4 separate regions of the Homo sapiens genome follow, and regions 1, 2 and 4 are each linked to region 3. The links come from fine-mapping of genetic effects on gene expression. A gene starts in region 3. Each other region holds a variant in brackets. All regions are shown on one strand. Distances are from middle to middle. Region 1 overlaps LOC107985440 (a long non-coding RNA gene). Region 2 overlaps RRBP1 (ribosome binding protein 1). Region 3 holds the start of RRBP1 (ribosome binding protein 1). Region 4 overlaps BANF2 (BANF family member 2).

Evidence for each region. PIP is the estimated chance that this variant, and not a neighbour inherited with it, causes the effect.
Region 1: its variant is the best candidate, but not a certain one, in a credible set for the expression of RRBP1 in lung (TOPMed, PIP 0.72).
Region 2: its variant is the best candidate, but not a certain one, in a credible set for the expression of RRBP1 in neutrophils (CEDAR, PIP 0.81).
Region 4: its variant is the best candidate, but not a certain one, in a credible set for the expression of RRBP1 in thyroid (GTEx, PIP 0.85).

What each region holds. Positions count from the first base shown.
Region 1 is chr20:17,840,820-17,846,785 of GRCh38, reverse strand. The region is part of intron 1 of LOC107985440 (a long non-coding RNA gene); the gene reads left to right. Among named protein-coding and RNA genes, the nearest start is that of SNORD17, 120 kb to the left of the region's middle. The variant G/T (reference allele first, on the strand shown) is at 2,964.
Region 2 is chr20:17,636,038-17,642,003 of GRCh38, reverse strand. RRBP1 (ribosome binding protein 1) reads left to right here. Exons shown (of 25, transcript NM_001365613.2): 5 at 85-207; 6 at 5,275-5,427. Among named protein-coding and RNA genes, the nearest start is that of RRBP1, 43 kb to the left of the region's middle. RefSeq lists enhancers at 4,389-5,262, 5,263-5,966. The variant C/T (reference allele first, on the strand shown) is at 3,195.
Region 3 is chr20:17,678,853-17,684,818 of GRCh38, reverse strand. It overlaps RRBP1 (ribosome binding protein 1), which reads left to right and starts at 2,577. Exons shown (of 25, transcript NM_001365613.2): 1 at 2,577-2,791; 2 at 4,744-4,820. RefSeq lists enhancers at 1,907-1,966, 3,220-3,892, 4,084-5,283 and silencers at 2,247-2,666, 2,897-3,226, 3,257-3,306, 3,337-3,646.
Region 4 is chr20:17,702,542-17,708,507 of GRCh38, reverse strand. The region is part of intron 1 of BANF2 (BANF family member 2); the gene reads right to left. Among named protein-coding and RNA genes, the nearest start is that of BANF2, 5.6 kb to the right of the region's middle. The variant C/A (reference allele first, on the strand shown) is at 2,384.

The sequences.
Region 1 (5,966 bases), 160 kb before region 3:
GTCTCCACCAACCTAAAAGTTGTCTCATCTTGGTTGGCTCAGTCATTTAACCTCTTCAAAGTGAAGCAGTGAGCCTGTGTGTATGATGTGCATAATGGTTGTATGTGTGCATATGTGTATGTGATGTGTACATGTGTAGGTGCAGGTGTGGATATGTGAGTGTTTCCTCAGTTTCCTCATCTCTACAATGGGGTAAAAACAATGACCTTGAAGGGCAGTTGTTGGGGTAGACATTGTGTCTGGCCTCCTCCTGTTTTCTCTCAGACCCTTTTCTCTCCTTTCTGCTTTCTGTTCTACAGTGTGGAGAGGGTCCCTTCCAGGGCCCCTGCCCTCTGGCTTCAGATAGGCTTGGACAAGTGAGTAGAAGCCTGGAGGGCAGAGGCGGGGAGAGCTCAGGGTGTGTCTCCCTGCTCTGCTTCTGGGGGTGTGTCAGGCAGTGGCTGCCTCTCTGCTGCGGCTCCAGCTCCTGCCAGAGGCCCCAGAACCATCAACTCTGATGACCCCACCTTGTCCCTTTGTCCTTTCCTGTCCCAGCCCTAGTGATGGTAGCAGTGGCTTCCTGTTGTTACTAACCTCTGGGTGACCTCGACATCCTCATATGGCTGTTCATCAATTCAAAGCTGCAAAACAAGTTCCCTCTATTAAACTCCCTGGGTTGGAAGATCTAGCATGGTTTTGGTTTTGTGCTGGGACCCTGATCCGTACAGAAATGACAAGCAGGGCAGTGTCTGGTGCCAAGAGGAGGGTCAATGTGTAGCACTCAGGTCTAGAGCTGTGGCCCCTCGTGGGCTTATGACAACATCACCAGCTAACCCCTTCTCTCAAGCGAAGAGCTCAACCCTGCCTTCTCGCCTTTCTTGATCAAAGCCCTGACTTAGCTCTTCGGCATTTTTTTTTTTTTTTTTTTTTTTGAGATGGAGTCTTGCTTTGTCATCAGGCTGGAGTGCAGTGGTGCGATTTTGGCTCACTACAATCTCCATCTCCTGGATTCAAGCAATTCTTCTGCCTCAGCCTCCTGAGTAGCTGGGACTACAGGCCTGCGCCACCACACCCAGCTAATTTTTGTATTTGTTTGTTTGTTTTTTGTTTTTTGTTTGAGACGGAGTCTCACTCTGTCACCCAGGCTGGAGTGCAATGGCATGATCTTGGCTCACTGCAAGCTCCGCCTCCCAGGTTCACACCATTCTCCTGCCTCAGCCTCCCGAGTAGTTGGGACTATGGGCACCCACCACCATGCCCGGCTAATTTTTTGTATTTTTAGTACAGACTGGGTTTCACCATGTGGGCCAGGATTGTCGTGATCTCCTGACCTTGTGATCCACCCGGCTTGGCCTCCCAAAGTGCTGGGATTACATGCGTGAGCCACTGCACCCAGCCTCTTTTGGCATTTTTAGTAACATGACCCAGTGTAAGGGAATGGGCTCTGGCAGCCCTGGGTTTGAACCTAGATTCACTATTAGTAGCTGGGTGACCTTCAGCAGGCCGCGTCAACTCAGCTGCATTATCTAAGCTCAGGGGATAAGAATACCTAATTCACAGAGATGGTATTTGTAAAGTACTCAATAGAGAGTAAACAGTCAGGTGTGAGGGCTCATGCCTGTAATCCTAACACTTTGGGAGAATGAAGCAGGAAGATTGCTTGAGCCCAGGAGTTAGAGACCAGCCTGGGCAACATAGCAAGATCCCATCTCTAAAGAAAGAAAGAAAGAAAGAGAGAAAGAGAGAGAGAGAGAAGGAAGAAAGGAAGGAAGGAAGGAAAGAAAAGAAAGAAAAGAAAGAAAGAAAGGAAAGAAAGAAAGAAAGAGAAAGAAAGAAAGAAAAAGAAAGAAAGAAAGAAAAGAAAGAAAAGAAAGAAAAGAAAAAATTAGCCAGGTGTGGTGGTGCATGCTTGACCTGCTCAAGGTCACCCAGCTAGTAATAGTGAATCTAGGTTCAAACCCAGGGCTGCCCTACTGCAGAGCCCAGTAATCCCAGCCACTTCCGAGGCTGAGGTGGGAAGATGGCTGTAGCCTAGAAGTTGGAGGCTGCGGTGAGCTGTGATTGCGCAATTGCACTCCAGCCTGGGCAAGAAGTGAGACCCTGTTCTCAAAAAAGAAAAAAAGGAAAAGAAAAAAAAGTATGGTGTCGTGTTTGTTGACTGTTATTAATCAATATTATCACCACAGACCCTTCCTTCAAGAACGTGGGATCTTTTCACCCGGTTGTGTGCGAGTGGACATTGAAATGGCTCACTTCTGGTCTTTCTAATATCTCTTGATATGAAGAGTGCAAAGACTGCTGGGAAAGATGGGAACATTTGCACAGGGGCTGAGAATCATGGGAAGAAAAGGGAAGAGACCCAGAACCTTTCCTTTCAATGTTGGCCTGAAAACATCTTGAGTAGATTGAGATCATCACCAAAAGGCTGGGGACCATGATGGAGAGCTGAGTCTGGTGGAGTTGAATTTGCCCACACTGGGCCCACAGGTTTGCTTCTACCTGGCATGTCTTTTCATTTCTTGTCCATCCAGCAAACTTCTATACATCCTTCAAGACCCAGCTGAGTTAAGGCCTATGGTGACCTTTGGTGACATCTCCAGTAGAATTAAACCCCATCATTCCTTCTGCTCTCAGCACTTGCGCATACTTCAGTGGTGGTGCCTACACACCCTCTTCTGTGAACTCTTAACGGCTCACACATCCTCCCGTCACCATGCCTGTCACATCCCTGCAGGAGTAGGAGGAGCCATGAGGGTAGTTGGTAACTGCTGAGCACTCACTGCATGTCAGGCACTGTGCTGTGTGTGTGATGCGTGTCACCCCACTGGCCCTCACCACTTCCTATGGGGTGTCACCACTTTACAGATGAGGGGACAGACAGGTGTACAGACCCATCGCTACCTGACTCTGGAGGCTGCATTCTCAACCTCCCTCATTTTGCTTGTGAACCCCAGAGAAAAGGGATCGGCTTATACCCTCCTTTG[G/T]GTACCCAGTAGCTGGCAGGATGCCTGTCACCAAGTGGTCACTTAAATGTCGGGTGAAATAAAGGAACATTCCACGGTGCTGACATGCCAAGGTTTATGAAACCACTTCCCTTATGTTGCTGTGAATATTTCTGAGCACAGCTCTCTTTCTTGGGCTGGATTATTTTCTTTGGGTCAGTTCCTGGGAGTGGAATGACTGGGCCACGTCATCTTCCACCTCCCAGAGCCGCTGGCAGTGAAGGAATAAAGCTGTTCTTTGCTGCCTTGCAGGCCAGGCCCTCTTCTCACCTTGATGTGGCTCCAATGCAGGCGCCCTGGCAGGCCTGAGACAGCTACACTGAGTCCTCTGGAGCCAGCGGTGGGGCCCTGTGCGGTCAGCGAGCCAGGATCCCCAGCACCACCCAGCACCCACAGCCCTTCCTCCAAACCCTCCCCAGCTGCCTCATTGGCAACTGGATTCTGTCTGGGGGCAGGGATCAGACCTGCAGGCATCCTCCCTGACCACACCACTGCCTCTGGCTTCCTTATTTGGAGGGTAAGAGATGAGGAGGTAGGAGAAGAGAAGAGGGCGGATGGAGGCAGCACAGGGAAGAAAGGATTGGGCAAAGGAGGGCAGGCCATAGGGAAGGGGTGGCCCCGAGTCCGTGCCTGGGGGTTAAACCTCCAGCACCCCATCTCATTTCTCCAGGGCTGGGGCAGATGGCCCTCCCGATTTCTGCAGACCTTCCTCCAAATCCTCAGCTCACAGAGGGAAAGGCGAATTCTCACTCTGGACAGGGACTCTGACCTCAGGTCCCTCGGCTGTGCTGAGAGCTCAGGGGTGGGAGAAAGCAGGCAGAGGGATGCTGGTGCCCCTGCCCTTCCCATGAAGACCCCCTTTTTCTCTGTCTCCTCTCCTTTCCATCCATTTATTTCCTTATCTTCCTTTATGGGTATTTCCACTCCAGTTACAAATGGGAGAAGACCAGGGATGCCCAGTTAAGACCAGAGACATCTCGTTTAGCACAGAGTCACCCAATTTAACTCAGAGACACCTGGTTAAGGGTGTCCTGACCAGTTGAGACCAATTTTTGTATGTTTTATGGTTGCCAGATAAAATCCAGGATGCCCAGTTCAATTTGAATTTCAGATGGGCAATGAATAATATTTTTAGTATAAGTATGTCCCAAATATTGCACAGGACACACACTAAAAAAAATTCATTGTTTATCTGAAATTCAAATTGAACTAGGCATCCCATATTTTTATTTGCTAAATCTGGCAAAGACAGTGCATTTCTCTTCTTTTCCTGAATTTTAAACTCTTGGGATTCGGCATCTGCCTCCCATCCTACTCCACCAACCAGCTTCCCTCTTCCACCTTTTTGGTGGAAATTTGACTTCTCTTAAACCCGTGCTCTTTTTAATTTCTCTCCTTCCCTGGGTTTTATTTAGTTAAACAAAGTCACACTGGGTCTCCATTTCAAAGTGTTTGATGTTATTACTAGATACTGGGGTTGAGGCAGTCTAAGCTTTTCGAAAGGTTTCTTCAGGACATTGGAGGGAAATTAAACCTTGGAAAATATGCTTGACATTTTTTTTTTCTTTCTAAAAAGAAAGTCTGTGCGTTCAGTTCCCTTATGGTCACGGGAGCACAAACAGTGGAGTTAAGGCCAAAAAGCTCATTTCTCAAGCCGCCACCAGCTGCAGCCCCGGCCAATAAATGATTTATCTCCAGCTGCACGGGCCACTTTCTCAGGGTTTCCATCCTCAGCTGAGCTTGTTCAAAGAGGCCTCGAACTTGTAGGCTCAGAGGGATCCGAGGAACTAGCTAGACCAGAGCTTCCCAAACTACCATGTCCAACAGGTCACTGGGGGAGCTTTCACCAGTCCCATGCTCAGGCTGACACAGCCTCATCAGCTCAAAATCACTGGAGCTGAGACCCAGCCATCACGGAAAAAAAAAATAAACTTGGCCAGGCGCGGTGACTCATAATCCCAGAACTTTGGGAGGCCGAGGCGGGTGGATCACTTGAGGTCAGGAGTTCGAGATCAGCCTCGCCAACATGGGGAACCCCCATCTCTACTAAAAGTACAAAATTTAACCGAGTGTGGTGGCACACGCCTGTAATCCCAGCTACTCTGGAGGCAGAGGTAGGAGAATTGCTTGAACCTGGGAGGCAGAGGTAGGTTGCAGTGAGCCAAGATCACACCACTGCACTCCAGCCTGGGTGACAGAGTGAGACACTGTCTCAACAACAACAACAACAAACTCCCAGATGATTTTAGATTGAGACCCAGTGAACCAGAGTGGTGCTTCTCAATGGCTCCTGGAAGTTGATGGACAAGGACCCCAGCTCCCCGCCTGTTGGTTGCAACAACTCTGAAGTATGTGACCCTCTTCTATTGGTCACCCCTGTCCTCAGTAGCCCATCCTCCCACAGCAGTAACTGGCTCCAGTAAGCCCCCTTTCTTGGCTTCTCTTCCCTGTTTCTCTTCCACATTTCTCTATGGTGCTTCTTGAGATCACCTCCCAAATCACCTACTTGTACTCAAATCCTTCTCTCTGATTTTGACCGTGGTTTATGATAGGTCACTGTTGCCCACAGATGGATGGTTTAAAATGCAAATTCTCAACTTAACAGGCTGCCCAGAATGGCAGAAGACCCCAGTTTTTGGAGCCAGGCAGACAAGGCACAAATCTTAGTTTGGTGGCTTAGACATTCTAAATTACTGTGGCATTTTCCGAGTCTCGGTTTTTAAAATCTCTAAATTGGGGTTAATAATGGCTGCCTGTTGGGGTTGTTGAAGAGGATAGAATAAAACAGCTTCTGTAGAAGGTAGAATAATAATTTCCTATTTTCACTTCCCTGTAGTAGCATTAATATTAGATGTCCACACTCTTGCTATGGCCTCAGGTGGCAGAGTATACTTAATGTCCCTTAGCTTTGGTCTTAGCCATGTGACTTGCTATGGTCAAGGATGTTGACAGTCATGATGTAAGTGAAGGCTTGAGTGGGCTTGT
Region 2 (5,966 bases), 43 kb after region 3:
TCAGGCCTCTGCTCTTGTCCGGGGTCAGGGGATGAGCCAAGTCCCATTTGTCCCCTCTGTTAACGCATCTCTGGGTATTTCTAGGCCACTCAGAAGGGTGACCCTGTGGCGATTCTGAAACGCCAGCTGGAAGAGAAGGAAAAACTGCTGGCCACAGAACAGGAAGATGCGGCTGTCGCCAAGAGCAAACTGAGGGAGCTCAACAAGGTACAGCCTGAGTGGGCTCGGAGATGGTTTGTCCTCTCCCGTCCTCAGAGGACCCCCGCCCCATCCACGGTGGATCCCGGGCTCCGAGATGCTGGGGCCTGCCTGGAACGTAGCTGGCTGTCAGGCTGCTGAGTAGGGACTGCTGCTTATCTGCTGCCTAAAGAGCCAAGGGCCGGCAGCTCACCCTTGGCAGTGCTCGTGGCTCTACGGCGTGGTGGCTTCCTTCGTGGCTGTAAGAACGCAGGGAAGTGAAGCAAGGGTTTGGAAGTTAAGCAGCATCAGTTTGTGATGGGGATGGACCAGACCTGGCTTTCACTAGACAGGTCCTGCAGTCACAGGCCAGCTTTCTAGGGGCTGTGCCTGGAAAGGAGGGTGGCCACAGTAGATTCAAGGTTGTTTTCTTGAGGATTATGCAAAACCTTGTGGGGAGGGGACTGGAGGGGCTGCTCTTCTCCCTTTTTCTGATGTCAGAGGAGGGATGTGCAGGGAAACCCTGGCTCCCCGTATCAGCGGATGGCGTGGCACGTAGCATTTGCACTCTGAACAGCAAACGGTGGTGGGTTGGTGCTGCCATAGGACGGGGCTGATGGCACGTTGAGATTGTGTTGGGATCCATGGCATAGGGGCTGTTCTTCCCACTGCAGAATTCACCGGGGTCTTTCCCCACCTCTCTGCTGCTGAGGGTGGGCCCTGGTGCCCCAGCCTTCCTGGAGGAAGGGCAGGGTGAGGGGCCCCCTGGCCCTCTGGGACTGGTCAGGCCCTGTTGAAAGCCGTCTTTGCCCCATGCAGCACCGCAGGCTTGCTCTTGCCCTCTCCCTGCCTCCCTGCCTTCTCCATCCCGGGCAGCGGGCGCAGGGGGAGGGCCTGGATGGTGGACTGTCCAACAGTGTCTGGGCTACAGCCCTTCTTCCGGGTGCCTTTGTCTGCTCGAGCACAAAGAATTGGAAGTAAGGCAGCCTTACTTTTTGTCGCAAATTCAGGGTCACGGCTCTGAGCCAGATGGGAAGTTCACTGGGTGGGGGATGGGCAGGACCAGAAGACACACCTTAGATGGCCGCTCTTCGATGCTGCTCTCCACCCTGCTGGGGTGGTAGAATATCTCCCTGGCTGCATGCTCAGGGCAGCCTGTGGTCCTCATTCAGTACCCAGCCTCCTCGGAGACCACTGGCCTTGCCTCTTAGGTGAGGAGAAGGTTAACGGTGCGTGGCCTCCCTTCCACCCACACTCTGCTCCCTAAGCCGGAAGAGGTCCTGTTGGGCTCCCAAATGCTGATCTGTGAGGACCCCCATCAAGCTCTGCCAGGGGCCCCTAATCTTCAGACCTAAGTCTGCCCCCCAGGCCCCAGCTCAGCCACTCACCCTGCCTCTGGCCTCACCTCTTCCCTTTCCCTACCTGTGCTCAGACATTCTGTGCCCTTTCGTGACTCCTCTGGGGCTCTCCTCTTGCTCTTCCCTTGGCCTCTAATGCCCTTCCGTGCTTGGATGTCTGGACATTGTCTTCTTACTCTGGAAGACTCAATTTGGTTTCCCTCCCTCAGGAGCCTTCTGGAGCTCCCATGTTCCTGTTCTGCACAGAGGTCATTGGTACAGTTAGGCATCACCTGGCTGCATCTGGCTCCTGTCAGACCTCAAGCCTGGTGGCGCAGACCCACTCTGGTGGTCTCACCAGGCTCAGCCTAGCAGGCCGCCAGTGATCAAGTGGCCACTGAGAGGGCCAGGCCACCTCGCAGCTGAGGGGAAGCCTGGAAGCATTTCTGAGTATTTTACATTGTCTTCTTGTAAATAGTTAAATGTTTGTAGTCGATGCCTTTGGCCGTTTCTCTTCCCTGTGCTCGTGCTCTCTGTTGAGAGTCCTGAGCAGAGCCGATGTGTTTACCTTATTCTTTTTTTTTTTTTTTTTTTTGAGACTGGAGTTTCACTGTTATTGCCCAGGCTGGAGTGCAATGGCACGATCTTGGCTCACTGCAACCTCCGCCTCCCGGGTTCAAGCGATTCTCCTGTCTCAGCCTCCCAAGTAGCTGGAATTACAGGCAAGCGCCACCATACCCGGCTAATTGTGTATTTTTAGTAGAGACGGGGTTTCTCCATGTTGGTCGGGCTGGTCTCGAACTCCCGACCTCAGGTGATCCGCCCACCTCGGCCTCCCAAAGTGCTGGGATTGCAGCTGCGAGCCACCGTCCCTGGCCTGTTTACCTCATTCTTACGGTAACACTGCAACTGCCCAGCACTGCTGAGGGAAATGTTGTGAGACAGTAAATTCCAGAGAGTGTGGCAGTTCCTCTTACCTTAATCCCCCTCGGGAGCTGGGGAGATGGATGGAACCTATGTTTCTTGTTCTAGTCCCTTCGACATGTTTTCTTTGTCCTTGTAGAGAAGTTTTTATAGTTGAAAAGGGTTTTCATTAATTCTGTTTCTTGGGGTCTGATGCTGAAGGCATGATCTGGACACACTGAGAAAGAAAATTTGGATCATCTGCTGTATCCAGGTCTCCCAAATGTGCGAAGTCCCAGCAGAGTTGGGTTCAAGGACCAGTCCACACACTGTCTGCAGGAGTTGATGGGCTCAGACGCCCTTGAGAACTCTGTCCTGGCTGTCTGAGAATCTCTTGGGGGTTTGAGGAGTCCAGGCAGAGCTCCAGTGATGTAACCAAGAAGGCACAACCTTCTGGAAAAACATTCCAGCTGTCATGTTCCTGGGCACCAGAACCTCTGTCCTGAAGCCATGCCTCGGACTGGCCCCGTCCTGGGCTTGGTCCCGTGTTCTGGCTTTAGGGCCCAGAAGGAGATGGGGCTGTGAAACAGAAGGAGCCCCAAGGCCCTCTGGGACCCTCAGAGGGTTTACCTGGGGATGGGGTCACGGGAGGAGTTCCTGTTACCAGGCCTTCTTGGTGGAGGTTGCTTCCTTGCTTGGCTGGGAAAGCAGGTTGGAGGGCTCTCTACAGTCCTCAAAGCTTACACCATGAGGGGCCCCACTACTCCTAGGGAACAG[C/T]GCCTGGAAGAAGTAGGGACAGAGAGTCACTTCTGAGCCAATGCTAGTGATGGTGCCAAGCCTTGTCTTCTTGTGCGCCGGAACCCCCCCACCACCATCAGGAATGCTTTTCAAGGAAATAAATCTGACTCTTGCAACTGAATTAAGAATTTGACAAGCAGAAGGAACCCTGGGTCTCTGAGCTCTTTGAAGAAAAAGAAACCATAGAGAGCTAAACAGCTGCACTGAGGACAAGTGACTTTTCTCTGCTCTTTAAAAAGCCTAGAGGCAAAAGAGGGGGAAGATCCCATTGAATCCTGGCGGCCTTGGGACGCTGACCCCCAGGAGATAGGGGTCTGCAGACCCTGAGCGGGGTGGACCTTGGAACTGCACGAGGCCTGCCCAGGGCTGGGAAGGGTGTCTCCAGGTGGCAGAGGAGGGCTGAGGATGACCCAAGTGTGGCTTCCCAACCAGCCATCCATGTGGCTGTGGGAATGCCTGGTCTCCATGAGCTTTGGTTTCTTCGCAAGGCTGGACCATCTACTTGGAAGGGCCGTTGTGTCGGAAACTCAGCAAAGAGAGCGGCCTCCTCTCTGCTGGTGTTGGGAGGCTTCCAGCCATCTCTACCACACCTGTCTGCCAGCAGTGGGCCGGTGGGGCCACGTGTGTTAGAGGAGGAAGTGCGGAGGGGTCCTGGAATCACCGCTAAGCTGTCCTCCCTTTCCCCAGGGGCTTCCCAGCCCACACAGAAGGGCAGGCGTCCTCATTCCTCCCCTTTCTGGGAACCCCTTGGTCTTGTACAGTCCTAGGTTTGGGCCCCACCCCTGCCTCTTAGAGCTGCTCCCCAGCCTTGGACAAGTGTGTCCTCTCCAAGGCTCTGTGACCTCAGCTTGGATGGGGATTGTAATCCTCGTCTTCCAGAGAAAATTAAATGGGACAGTGCTGGGGCGCAGTGTCAGCTCATCCCGCCCCCCACTTCTGTAGCTAATCAGTGAAGCAGACCTGCAGGTTCCTGTGGGCCTCTCACCCCGGGCAGAGCCAAAAAGATGATTGTCTTTGAAAAGTGAGGCCAAGGGTCCCAGGAGGTCCCAGAGAGTACCAGGAGCACGGAACAGCACCAGCACCCAGTGGCTCCTCCTCAGGGTTCTTTCCCATCTCAGGCAAGAGGGACACTCTGGCCTTTGGGACAGGCCTCCCTATAGTCCTGGTCTGGGGAGGGGACGGACTTCCTCACTCCTGGCCCACTGCCCATGGAGCAGCCTTGACGCTGGTGGGACGCTTGTGCCCTGGTCACTCAGGCCTGCTGTGTTTATGATATGTATTCACATCACATCAGTGCTGGTCTGTCCAGGCCTGCTAGACAGGGAACACCCCCACCCCAGGGGCTCATTGTGTCAACCTTTCCTTGAGTTGTCACCCTGCCTCCCTATGGTTTCTGGTTGAGGCCATCCCTCTGGGATGACACAGACCATGGCCAGCCTTCCCATCCTGCTCTGTCCCTGCTGGAGACGCCGGACCCCCCAGACTCGGCATCCATGTTCACCTGTGGGTATCTGGCACTGATCGGAGCCGATGTCCCCCTGGGTGGAGGACAGAGCGACCGCCTGCAGAGATGCATGCCCTACCCCCAGCCACGGCGGAACTGGCAGCTGGCCCCACCCCCACCCTAGCCATCAGGGCTTGGTGCCTTTCAGTCCTGATGAAGGCACTTGAGTAGAAGTAGGTGTCCCAGGGGCCCTGGATGTTGGTGACTGAGTCAAGCTGGGGTGTTGTCATCACAGCAGGGCCGAGCCAGTGCCCTGGAGAGCCAGGGACAGCACCGTGTGTCTCTGCTGTTCCTGCCGCATCTGCCACCTCCACTGTGGCCAAGGCCTGACATTGAGCCCACAACCGGCCAGGGCCAGCAGGGTTTCCAGGGATCCCTTGTTGTCTGTCGTCGTTCCCACTGCAGCTGGCTTGAGTCTAGCTGAGAACCCGGCCAGCAGGAGGGGTCTGTGCTCTGCTCTCCAGCCTCCCAGCTCGGGTGATGCTCTTGCTCCCTTCTGATAGGCTCCTGCCCTGCAAGGCTTACCAGCCCCTCTCTCTGCTACTTTCCCCCCAGGAGATGGCAGCAGAAAAGGCCAAAGCAGCAGCCGGGGAGGCCAAAGTGAAAAAGCAGCTGGTGGCCCGGGAGCAGGAGATCACGGCTGTGCAGGCACGCATGCAGGCCAGCTACCGGGAGCACGTGAAGGAGGTGCAGCAGCTGCAGGGCAAGGTGGGTGTAGTGGCTGGCGGGGGCATGGGAAGGGACAGGACCCAGTCCAGGTCCAGGACGGAGGGAGCCAGAGAGGCCCAAAGGGTGAGGCATGAGGAGGGGGTTGAGGATGCCCACAGGGGTCTGTAAGGTCTGGTCAGGTTTAGGAGTCCAGGGGCTGTTGCATTTGGCTGGACAGGGTCTGGCAGCCCAAGTGTGTGTATAATGTTAAAAGCCAGGGAGGTATGAAATACATTTTAAAGAACACTTTTCAAAAGAGCCTAGTCTCAGATGGCCAGCCCTGTTTCCCTGCCTCCTGGGTGTCTGTGAAGTTCTCACCCTTCATGTGAACCTAGAGAAACGCAGGCTCTATCTTCTTTCCACATGGTGGGGAGGATCCCATAATACCAAGGCCTGAAAATCACACAGCTCCAGCGGCCAGCACTGGGCGGCTGCCCAGACTGGCCCTGTAGTCAAAGTCTGAAGCCTGCACCCTGCTCATAGTGGGCTGCGACCTCCTCCCTGCTGCATGTCTCAGGACGTGCTGGAGGTCAGAGGGC
Region 3 (5,966 bases):
TCTGGTTTTTCCCAGATACGCCTTGGGAGAGCTGACGAGGCTGCAGGGGGTTAAAGATGGGTGTCCACAGGCACAGCAGTGGCTGTCAAAGTCGGGCCACCCTGAGGGTGTGCAGATCTGCCCTGACAGAGCCTGGTGCAGCGGGACTGATTTCTTTGCCCAAAGGGCATGAGGATGATGAGGCTGGAAGTCTTCACAGCACATTGGGGCTGGCTGTTGGCAGATGAGGGGCAAGGACAGAGGAAATGCAAAGGCTCAGACAGGGCTGCTCTTCCATCCCGAAACAAATGTTGTGTTGAGGCCAAATCAAATGTTAAGTTATGTAAGGGAACAAACAGGGAGCCCCTTTTCTGTAAACACTCCTCACTCCTAAGGACTTTGTAATGTTATCGCTCATGGGACAATATTTACAGAACACGTATATTCACAAGCCTCTATTCTGTGCAGGTGCTGTGTCGGACTATGGTTCACAGTGTGGGAGACACTGCTGTGGCCCCCGACATGCCTCCAGGCACTCACCATTCTGCCAAGGGCTTCTTGCTGCAAGGCTTTCTCCAGCTTGATGGGGGCGGGGGTTAAAGTCCCCCCAGAAGAAGCTGTTAACCAATGAGGACTGGGAGTGGCTGGATAAATAACCAGGTCCTCACCCCTCAGCTGGGACGTCTCTGGGGTGTGTTCTACAGTTTCACAGCATCCCCAGAGACGCCGAGCCCTGTGTGCCCACACCAGTCACAGGCTTGATGTTGGTCCCCTTATTGGCTCCTGCTCATCCCACTTCTCCACCAATGTTTCTTATGATTATCCCCCAAATGAATGATTGAACAAACCCTACTGCCAGGATCTGCTTCCGGAAAAAGATAAACAGTGAACAGGATAAAGGAGGTCCCTGTCCCTGGACAGGCCCTTGAGGGCAGCTGGGTCTTCACTGGACCTATGTGTCATTCTAGGCTGCTTGCCCAGCTTAGCACTGTATACCGGGCACTCCACAAACACCGGTGAATGAATGAATGAATGAATGAACGAATGAATTTCCTCCCTGAAACCCAGAGGAAGGAGTGATTGTCCTAAAGGAGTATACCCATGTTCAGAAAGGTTAGATGGCCCAGCCCTGGTCAAGTAGGACTCATTGGTAGCAATTGCCAGCCAGAAGCTGGGATTCTTGACTTTCATTTGAAGCCGGGTCTCACTGCTGGAAAATGACTGAGTGTTCCAGAGTTAATCCAGGTTAATTCCTGCTGATTAATCATTAATGGGCTAAGGAACCGCCAAGATTAAAAATAGGAATGAACAGTTTAATTTCAACCCAATCGCTCTTTATTCCCCATGAAGGCTTGTATTTTTCACATCTTTCTAACAACAGCTAGTACAGTACTAGTGACAAATGGGGACAGGGAAGATTGAAAATTGTCCAAGAAATAGATGTTAGGCACGGGATTCTGCAGCAACAGGAGCTAGGGAAGTGATGGGGGGCAGTCTAGGCAGCCTTTGGTCGCTCAGAATCCAAAATTCCAAAGAAGCTGGCTTTGGCTCAAGTTCAAAGGGTTGGCTTTAAGAGACGCTGACATAATGGTTAAAAATCAAGCCTAAAATTATTTTAATTTAAAGACTTGACTAATTATGAAGACTGAGTGTTGGCTGATATTGGGGAGAAAGTCAGGGAATGAGGAAGTACCAGTTGCTCCGTTTTGTGGGACACGGATGAGTTTTCTTAGGTTAGAACCTCTCACCTTCCCCAACGCATGGAATAAAACGCCACAGAGTGGATTGTAATTATTGCTCTGCCGGCTGTGATTTGGTTGAGTATCTTAAATAGACCGTGCCTCAGTTGTACCCTCCCTAACAACGAGGGCGATGACATCCGCTTCAATTCCTCGTGCACCTTCTGGCTCTTCCACCCCAATTCCTCCATTTACTGAAGGAAATTCCTTCTGGTGCTGATTGCAATCTCTTTGATGATAAGAACTTGCTCTCCCTGGGCTGACCCCCAGCAGAGCTTGTCCTCATACCCGGCGGCCCGAGGGGGCGCTGCTTCGGGGGAAGTTAGTTGGGTTTAAATAAAGCAGCTTCCTTGGCTGTTCGCGGTTGCGCAACCCTGTTCAGCCACCGCCATGTCAGCCCAGCGGTATCCAGAGGCGCAGGCCCGGGGTCGCCGGGACCCGAACCTTCTGCTTCCCGCCTAGGCAGAGCCGGATCCTAGTCAGAGACTGCTGGGAGCGCCGCGGGCCCAGAGTGGGCGGAGCTGGCCGGAGACCCCCCCCTCGGTGGGCGGGGCGTTCCTGCTCCGCCCCGCCCCGCGCACGGCCGAGCGCCGCGCCGCTCGGCCCCGCCTCTCCCCAGCCCTGCCCCCTTCACCTCCCCGCAGCTCCTCCCCTCTCCCATTGGCCGAGGTGGAGACCCTCCTCTCTGCCCAATGGCCGCCGCCGCGGCTCGGCCACCCGCGTCCTGACTGGCCAGCGACCGGCAGAGTGGCGGGGTGCGGACCAATGGGAAGAGGCGGCTCGATGAATGGCTGGCCCGGGTGGGGAAGGCAGGAGGCGGCGATCCCGGCGGAGGGGGCCGTTCGCCAGCTCTGAGGCAGAAAGTGCCACGACTCCACACGCGCGCACGCAGCCAGCGAGCGGCCGGAGCGGACGGCAGACGGGGCGGGCGGCGTCAGGGTCGCAGCGTCTACAGCTGCTCGGGGGCGGTTTCTTGGCGGAGGCTTGGCCGGCTCCTCTCTCCCGGCTCCGCGGCGGCTGCGAAGGCGGCGGCTCCTGCCCTCTCGCTTTCCCTCTCGCGTCTCTGGCTGCAGGTAAGAAACTTGGCCGGGCCCTGCAGCGGCCGCGCGCGGGCCGGGCCGTCGGGGGGCCGGGGCCGGCCGCGCTGCGCCGCGAGTGACACGTCTCCTCGGCGGCCCCTCCCCCGGCCCGCCCGCCGCCCGCCGCCTGCCGCCGCGGCCGTGCACCATCGGGGTCGGGGTCGGACTCGGGGCGGGGGTGCCGGGCAAGCGCCGTACCGGGGCGTAGGCAGGGCGCGCCCCGTGGTGTGGACCCCGCGGCCCTCGCCGTCCGGGGAGCTGCGGCGGCAGACGGGCGCGACGTGGCGACCGCTCCCTGCCTCCCTCCCTCCCGGCAGGGCCGTCGGGCCGGCCAGCGCGCTCCGAAGTTGGGCGAAGAAAGTTGGCGGCGGGGCGGGGCGGGGCGGCGCACAGCTGGCGGAGGAAGGGGTTAAGTTTCGGGAAGCCGCCGGATGACGTTGCCGGGCTGGAGTCCGGGCCGGAGGGGTGGGGTGCGGGCGGAAGGCGGCGGAGGCCGGCCGAGGGGAGGAGGGCGGGATTGAATGGGGGCCCACGGGCCGAGCGCGCCGGTCCCGGGCCGCGGCCCGCTGGCGCTTCGCGGGGCTGGGACGGCCCCCGACGGGGCGGGCCGGGGCCGCAGGGCTCGCGGCGCAGGGACCGGGTCTGTCCATGGCACGGACGCCGGGCGGCCGCGGTGGCAACTTCCCGGAGTGCGGGAGGCGGCTCCCTGCTCCCCCTGGCGGCGGGGCCGGGGCCACCGTTTCCCCGGCTGGGCTGCGCGGAGCCTGGCTCGAGGGCTCCCGGCGGGGGGACGAGGGCGCCCGGGGCCCGGCCCGCCCCGCCCGCGGCCACGATGAATGGGCCGGCGGTGCCAGCCCCGGGCGGAAGCGGACACCTCCGGGCCGGCCAAGCGCGCTGGCACCCGGCCTGGTGCCCGCCCCGGCCCGGCCGGCTCTCCCGCTGCGCCCTGATTAGGGGAGGCAGGCCGGGGTCTGCGCTTCCAGTGGGGCGCCCGCAGTGCTTCAGGGACCCCTCTCCGAATGATAAGTCGCGAGTTTTAGCTCTAGAGTGCCCCGGCTGGCGAGGGTGACCCCGACCAAGTTGTTTCGTTCGGGGTCTCCATTTCCTGGTCTGCAAATCGGGGCTCCTGTTAGCTTCGATTTGCGAGGAAAGCTGTGGAGACCCAGCACTTGTAGGAAGGAGCCACAAGTGTTGGCTGTTCAGTTGGGATGCTTTTGTTGGGGGGTGCTGGACACGGGAGGAAGGTGGGGCCTGGCTCCGGCACTGCGGCGGGCGCGGGGCTGCAGAAGTTGCACAGCCGGGGTTCTACACCCCGGACCACGTACTGGCCGCCTACTCGCAGGTCCCATAGCCCCTCTGAATCCTAGTTTCTTATCTGTGGCCTGAAGACAGCACCACCCACTCACAGGGTCGGGAACCACGCCGGGAAGTGCTGGGACCTTGTACAAACAGAAGGCAATTTGGCAATTACTCTGAGAGGTCAGAGGTTAGGAGAGACTGGGAAGCACCAAGGAAATGAAACTCTGAGGGACCTGAGGAGCCTCCCACGTCACTGCTCAGCTATTCACTCTGCGTGCTGGAACCTTCAGGGTAGGGGCCATCTGGATGGCATTTTCAGGAATTTGGAGAAATGGGCCTGGTAGGGCCTCATATCTCACATTAGATACCTCTTCAGAACTGGGTGTCCCCAGAGACCCAGGACGTCTGTCTGGCACTCCCAGGAAGAACAACTGCGAATGTTACCCCGCCCTGTGCAGCTGGGGGGCATTCTCCCACTGCCCCGCCTCCCTCCTCACACTCCTTGTTTGATTTAACTTCCTGTTAATCCGACACCTAGAGAAATCTGTGACCCTGCAGCATGTCACTTACTGTGTGATGTCTTGACTCGTTTACGAACTTGCCAAAGGTCACTCCCACTATCATATGCCAACCTCTTTCCCTTCCAGAAAGAAGCTTCCGGTTCTGAGGTCCTGGAGGTGCCATTTCCCTCTCTGTTGAAGCAAAGGCCGGGGCAGACCTCCTAGTAGGTGAAGTTTTCCTTTTACATGGAGCACCGCAAAGCCGGCTTGCAGGGATCTTGGGCCAGTGGAGGCCTGGAGGAGGCTAAGGTTGGGGGAGGGGAAACCAGAAAGGGATCTTGGGGTTTAGGAGAGGGTTTAGAGCTCTAGGCACTATAACAACTCTCACCTTTCATACTTAGGAATCTGCCTCTGAACATTTACAGAGAGATTAAGAAGTTACAGTGGTTCATGGTATATGAGTATTTTTTGGTGATGGAAGAGTTTTAAATAAATCTTAAATCAAGTCACATTTGAGCAATTATGCTCTTTAATGAAATGAGCCCTAACTCAACAGGCTGCAATAATTACATAGCAGCAAACTCAGTTTAAATGGTTGAATGCCAGTGATTGAATTGGAGTATTGATTTATTATGTAGCAGGGACACCTTTTAAAAGTGTCGGGACCCCAGACTCTTCTTGTCTTTTTAGCCCTGGGAATTTTAACTAATAGATGAATGACACATAGAGGATCAACAGTTCTGTTGAGACAGCAAGTTTTTCTTTGCTAAAATCTTGTTTCAGGAGAAACAAAAATAATGGTCAAGTCAGAATGATGAAGGCAGGGACTGTGCTGTCCGTCTGTGCATGCTGGGCCTGCAGTGGTTAAGGCCTGGCCTATAACATCATAAATATTGGTTATACCAGGCGGACAGCGCCCCCATACCTGTTAAACTATTCCCAGCTGTCTCATTGGATAAATGAAGCTTAGCCCAACTTGGTTTTTAAGGTTCACTTTTTAGAATCAGATTCCACAACTGTGGTTTACATTTAGGCCTTAAAATAACCCTGTTCTAGGGGGTGGGAATGGTTGTCACCCATTCAGTGGATGAGAATGTGGAGGTCCAGCTGGTCAGAAGGTTGTCAGGCCAGTTCCTGTTGCCCAGTTGCTAGGCGATGTGGGCCCGGCCTTCCAAATGTTCCCTCCTGGCTATATACCTCCACCTTCCTGGGGCAATAATTACCCAAGGGAGGACACAGAACGTGAAGATCAAAATTAAGAGCTTCAGTGGCAGGAAGGTGGGGAGGCATTTTGAAAATCTGGCAGTGCTGAAGGTATTTTTCATTTCATTTTTTTCACCGAGGGTCTCCTGTGTGGTGGGCCTTCAAAC
Region 4 (5,966 bases), 24 kb before region 3:
TGGGTCCCATGTGACTGGCTCTTCTGAGTCTTTTCAAGAGAAGCCCAACGTTTAGATTTTTATGTACTAGTATCCAATTTTTAAATGTTGGGAAATCATTCAAATATTCATAATGCTGTATGGACCCAACAAAACAAAGCCATGCCACGGTTTGTCTCTCCTGCTATGGACCTTCCTTCAAGAAAAATGCCCCCTTGCACATATAAATACAATTTGACATCATATTTCAGGCTTTTGTGGATCAGGGATCTCAGGTTTTTTTCTGTTTGTTTTTGTTTTTGTTCGAGACATATCACTTTGTCACCCAGGCTAGAGTGCAGTGGCATGATCTCAGCTCACCACAACCTCTGCATCCTGGTTTCAAGTGATTCTTCTGTCTCAGCCTCTCGAGTAGCTGGGATTACAGGCATGCACCGCAACACCTGGCTAATTCTTTTTGGTTTTTTTTTTTTTTTTTTTTTGATTTTTAGTAGAGACAGGGTTTCACCATGTTGGCCAGGCTGGTCTCAAACTCCTGACCTCAAGTGATCCATCTGCCTTGGCCTCCCAAAATGCTAGGATTACAGGCATGAGACACCGTGTCCAGCCCGTAGTCAAGTTTTGATTCTTAAAAAACAATCTTGGCTGGGGCTGGGTGCAGTGGCACACGCCTGTAATCCCAGCACTTTGGGTGGCCAAGGTGGGTGGATCATCTGAGGTCAGAAGTTCGAGACCAGCCTGAGTAACATGGTGAAACTTCGTCTCTACTAAATACAAAAAAATTAGCCGGGTGTGGTGGCACATGCCTGTAATCCCAGCTACTCGGGAAGCTGAGGCAGGAGAATCACTTAAACCCAGGAGGTGGATGTGGCAATGAGCCGAGATCGTGCCATTGCACTCCAGCCTGGGCAATAAGAGCAAAACTCCATCTCAAAAAAAAAGTATATATATATATAGGATCAGGTCATTCTCATCTTGAACCTTGGACATGGTTTCCCTGGGACATGTTCTGACCTTCCCTGTGAAAAATATCTACAAACAGTGACTGCCATTCTTGCCTCTGCTGTACTTCCATCTTCCTACTCGGGGACCACATGCTACTCCCAGCATCTTCCCTTAAATCCTTACTGGGATTTTCTTTTTTTTGACACAGAGTCTCGCTCTGTCCCCCAGGCCAGAGTGCAGTGGTGCGATCTCGGTTCACTGCAAGCTCCACCTCCTGGGTTCACGCCATTCTCCTGCCTCAGCCTCAGTAGCTGGGACTGCGCCTGCCACCATGCCCGGTTAATTTTTTGTATTTTTTTTTTTTAGTAGAGATGGGGTTTCACTGTGTTAGCCAGGATGGTCTCAATCTCCTGACCTCGTGATCTGCCTGCCTTGGCCTCCCAAAGTGCTGGGATTACAGGCGTGAGCCACTGCGCCCGGCTGGGATTTTCATCTTTAAAGCATCCCTGGTGAAGCTTTGATTTCCAGTGCTTGCAAACCCATCTGAAAGTGCCAAGATGTGGTCCCCGGTCTCTTCCCTCTGTGTGGCCCTTGGGTGTTGGTGGCATTTAGATGTTGATCAAGTCATGCCTGGCCCTAGCTCTGCTCTAGAGGTTTGGATCTGTATATTCCATCCTGCTCACAGCGTCTACTTGCCTGCATGGACTTTGGATAGAGTCACCTGGAAATGACCAAAGATACACATATGCCATCCCTCCTTCTTTGCAGAGAAGACGAGAAAGACCTTTGCACTGATCTGCACTCTGAGCCACTGCCATCTGCTCATTGAATGCTACCCCTCTCTTAGTGGCAGTGAAAAGGCAGAAGGAGCCACACCTGGCTGGATTTGTGTTTGATCTTGGCTTTACCCTTTACTTGGTGGATCTGTTCCTACCTCTCCATTCCTGCCATCACTTAAGGATCCCCTACTACGGATGGGCTAGGTGTCTTGCTAATTCACAGACATCTTATTTAATCCTCACGACAAAGCTATGATGTAGGAACATATCTGAGCCCCATTTGCCAGATGAGGAAATGGGGGCTTAGACAGTTTAGTAACATGCCCAAGATCATATACTTGGCGAAGAGAAGAGCCAGAGCTTGAATCCTTCGTGTTAAGCTCATACCTGTGAGTTCAGCCAACTAACCAACAGCTACTTTTTTCTTCTTGATCTATATGGGTCATGATAATCCCCAAGCCGGGTCACTGAGTGGCTTAGAATGAGCTCATATGAAGTGCCCAGGTGAATGAGGGTCTCAAAGGTAATGTTGCTATAACAATCACCCTCACGTCAGCACACCCCAGCCCTGACCCACAATCTCTCCCTGGATTTAAAGTGTGTACTTGGCTCTAGGAACCTTCACCCTTCAGCCTGGCACACTTGGTGTCTGTCTGTGCTGACTCTCCGGATTTGGCCAA[C/A]CTTCAAGCCCCTTCAACCTCATCTATGCCGTCACCTTGCCAGTTGGGTGGCTGCGTTTTCCTAAGTACAGACCCATGTGGTTTTCTGCACCTCTCAATAGTTCCCTCAGGCATGCAGCAGTGAGGGGCATGTCCCAGGCAGGGGTTGGGCACTTTGGGTGCCCATGGGCCCTCACAGGAGCAGTGCCATAGAAGCCCACAAACCCTTATGCAGGGATATGTGGGAGAAAGGAAAACACACAGACTCCAGACAGCAGGAACACAACCAGGAGGACAGGGCTGCCCTGAGGTACAAAGAGATGCTTCTGCACAGCATGAAGTATGCCTCAACATAGCATCTGGGGTAATCCCAGCATGAACTAGTTGCATAACCTTGCCCAAATCACTTTCCCTTCTTGGCCTTAGTTGCTTCATCTATAAAATGGGGAGGAATAGAGTTAGGTTACTAATTTTCCAAACAATAGTCCCTAGGCCTCCCCCCATTCTCAGGGATTCACAATGTACACCAGCCTATTTACGGCTTTGAAAAGTCCTGTAAAGCTAGGGAACTACTGACCTGGCCTAGCCCATTATCTTTTACCTTTCCTAGACCAGACAGCCTTTTAAGTAACATCAGTTAGCTTCCCTTGAACCAGTGTTCTGTGGAACATGCGTTGGCTAATTTTCAAGATTCTTCTGGTGCTAAAGATCTTTAATTCGACAGCCCCTGAGTCTGTGCTAGGGATTGGGAGGCCTGGTTAGCTGTGGGCCCTCTGGAATTTATGAGGCTCCCGCCCTCTGTTTTCTCAGCCATCACACAAGGACTTCAACACCTGTTCTCATGATCAATTGGGACAATTTTTTAGCTTTCTAACTGCTCTCCCTTCTCTCCAATTTTACATGGAGAATCACCTCTTCCTGCTTTCATCCAATGTGGCTTGGGTGGGGCCAGTCTCCCACTTGGCTCCAGGGACACACATGACCAGGCCTCGCCAATGAGGTAACAACACACATGACCAGGCCTGGCCAGTGAGGTAACAACACACATGACCAGGCCTGGCCAGTGAGGTAACAACACACATGACCAGGCCTGGCCAATGAGGTAACACATCCTCCTGGCCACAGTGACTGCATCATTGTGGACACGCGACCTCAGCTGGGCCAGCCAGACAGAATCCTGGCACTTTTGCCAGAAAGATTAGGCAAGAAGTGGTGCCCCCTTCTTGCTGGGGTTGCTAAGTGAGTGTTCGTCTCTCCTTCCACTTGTGGGGGATCCTGTCAGAGCGATCCTGGCAATGCAGAACTGGAGATGGTGACAAGTAGTTTCTTGACAACATCATTTGAGGGCCTAGATACAGCCAGTCCTGAAGCCATATGTGCTCCAATCAATCCTTTGCCTTTTAACTAGTTTGAGTTTAGTTTCTAATCCTAACTGAAAGAGACCCATTCCACCAATTTTACAAGGGACACAATGATAATTAAATGTTAAAGAAGGAAGAGGCCTTAAAGGCTGATAAAGCAATGCATGAGAAGTGCTTGGGAGGTAGGATGGGACAGTTACCCTATGTGGGCACAAGCCCAGATGCCTGGGAAGAAGGGACCGATCATGTAGACCTCAGCAACAGTGGGTAATGCTTAACCCAAAGAAGTGCTGTCCACTCTAGAAGTGGAATTGAGGGCCCTGCAATGTCAAACCTAAGCATAGGCTCAGTCCTGATAGGATGCATTCTAATACAGCCTTGCTACTCCACGTGCAGCCTGTGGGCCTGCAGCTTTGACGTCTCTTGGAGTTTGTTAGGAATGCAGAATCTCAGGCTCCACTCCAGACCTACTAAATCTGCATCTTAACTAGACCCCAGATGGCCCATGTGCATGATCAAAGTTGAGAAGCACTACCACAGCACTGTTGAAGTGACTGTGTAGCGTGTCCATAGACCCCTTCCTGCTGGTATGAACATCCTGCCCACCCACCAGGAAGTGGACAGTTTCCCCTCCCCTTTTATCTGGGCTCTCGCCCTATGGCTTAGTTAGCCCGGTAGAAGGTGATAAAAATGGTGCTGCCAGTTCTGGGCCTGGCAGCCTCTGCTTCCTCTCTCAGAAGCCAGCTGGGGACAGTGGTTCACACCTGTAATCCCAGCACTTTGTGAGGCCGAGGCAGAGGCCTGAGGTCAGGAGTTTGAGATCAGCCTGGCCAACATGGTGAAATCCCATCTCTACTAAAAACACAAAAATTAGCTGGGCATTGTGGCAGGCACCTGCAATCCCAGCTACTCAGGAGGCTGAGGCAGGAGAATCGCTTGAACCCAGGATTGGGAGGCGGAGGTTGCAGTGAGCCAAGATCACACCACTGCACTCCAGCCTGGGCAACAGAGCAAGACACTGTCAAAAAAAAAAAAAAAAAAAAAGTCAGCCTACTTGCCCTGAGACCTCCATGCTGTAAGAAAACCCAGACAAACCGCATAGAGATGTTTCTTGGAGAGCCCAAAAGTCCCAGCTGTGTGAGTGAGGCCTTCTTGGGCCACCCTGTCCAGCCTAGCCCCCAGCTGAGTGACCCTCAGTGACACAATGTGGAACTGAGTCCTGCTCACATTCCAGACCCAGAGAATTGGAAGAAATACGAATCTTTGCTGTTCTAGGCCGCTGTGCTCATGTTATTTTGTCACACAGCAGAAGTTACTGGGGCCATGACCGCCTTTCCTCCTCACTGAAGGAGGGGGCTGTCCTGCAGAATGTTCACACACTGTAAGCACCATACTGAGCACTTTCTGCCTCTCAGGCGCTGTTCCAGGCACAGAGATGGAGTGGGAGAGGGCAGACTGCATCCCTGCTCTGGTGAAACTGGGATTTTTATCCAGGGATAGGGCAGTAGACAAGAAAACACACAAACGTAACTTCAGAGAGATAAGGAGCAATTGGAATGGGGCTGGGGACACAATTAGGTAGAATAGGGAAGATCTTTCTGAAGACACACACTTGATCTGAGGCCCTCCTGTTGAACAGGGGCAAACCATAAAATGATCAGAGGAAAAAGTGATGCCGGCAGAGAGAACAGCAAATGCAAAAATCAAAAAGCACAGGAGGTCTGGGAGTGAAGGCAGAGGGAAAGGGAAAGCCAGGAGAGGGGAATGAGATCAGAGATGAAGTCACAAAAGTCAGCAGGGCCCAGAGCAGCAGCGTCTAGCACACCGCCACCAGCCACCGATGGCTATGTAATCTAAGCTTCCATTTAAACAACAAGCGCAGCTCCTCAGTCCCACTGGCCACATCCCAAGTGCCCAGTGGCCCTGTGTGCCTAGTGGCTATCATATGAGACAACACAGAGACAGAATATTCCCGTGACGGTTCTGTTGGCTGAGATGGCTATAGAATAACTCAGAAGCAGATCAGAACCAGGGTTCAAGGTCAGACCATGTGTTCTTGGGCTTAGTATTCCATTAAATTTCTGAAGGTTCCAGTTTTCCCCAGGGTTAAATGAGGCTTTTCCAGCCCAACAGTGGGTCCAAATTATCCACAGCAAGAAGCCAAGTCCACAAACAGTTGCACACGGGTCCTATCCAAGGAGCATCAGCAAGGCCTCATCCATGGAAACTGGCAGCAGAGGTCT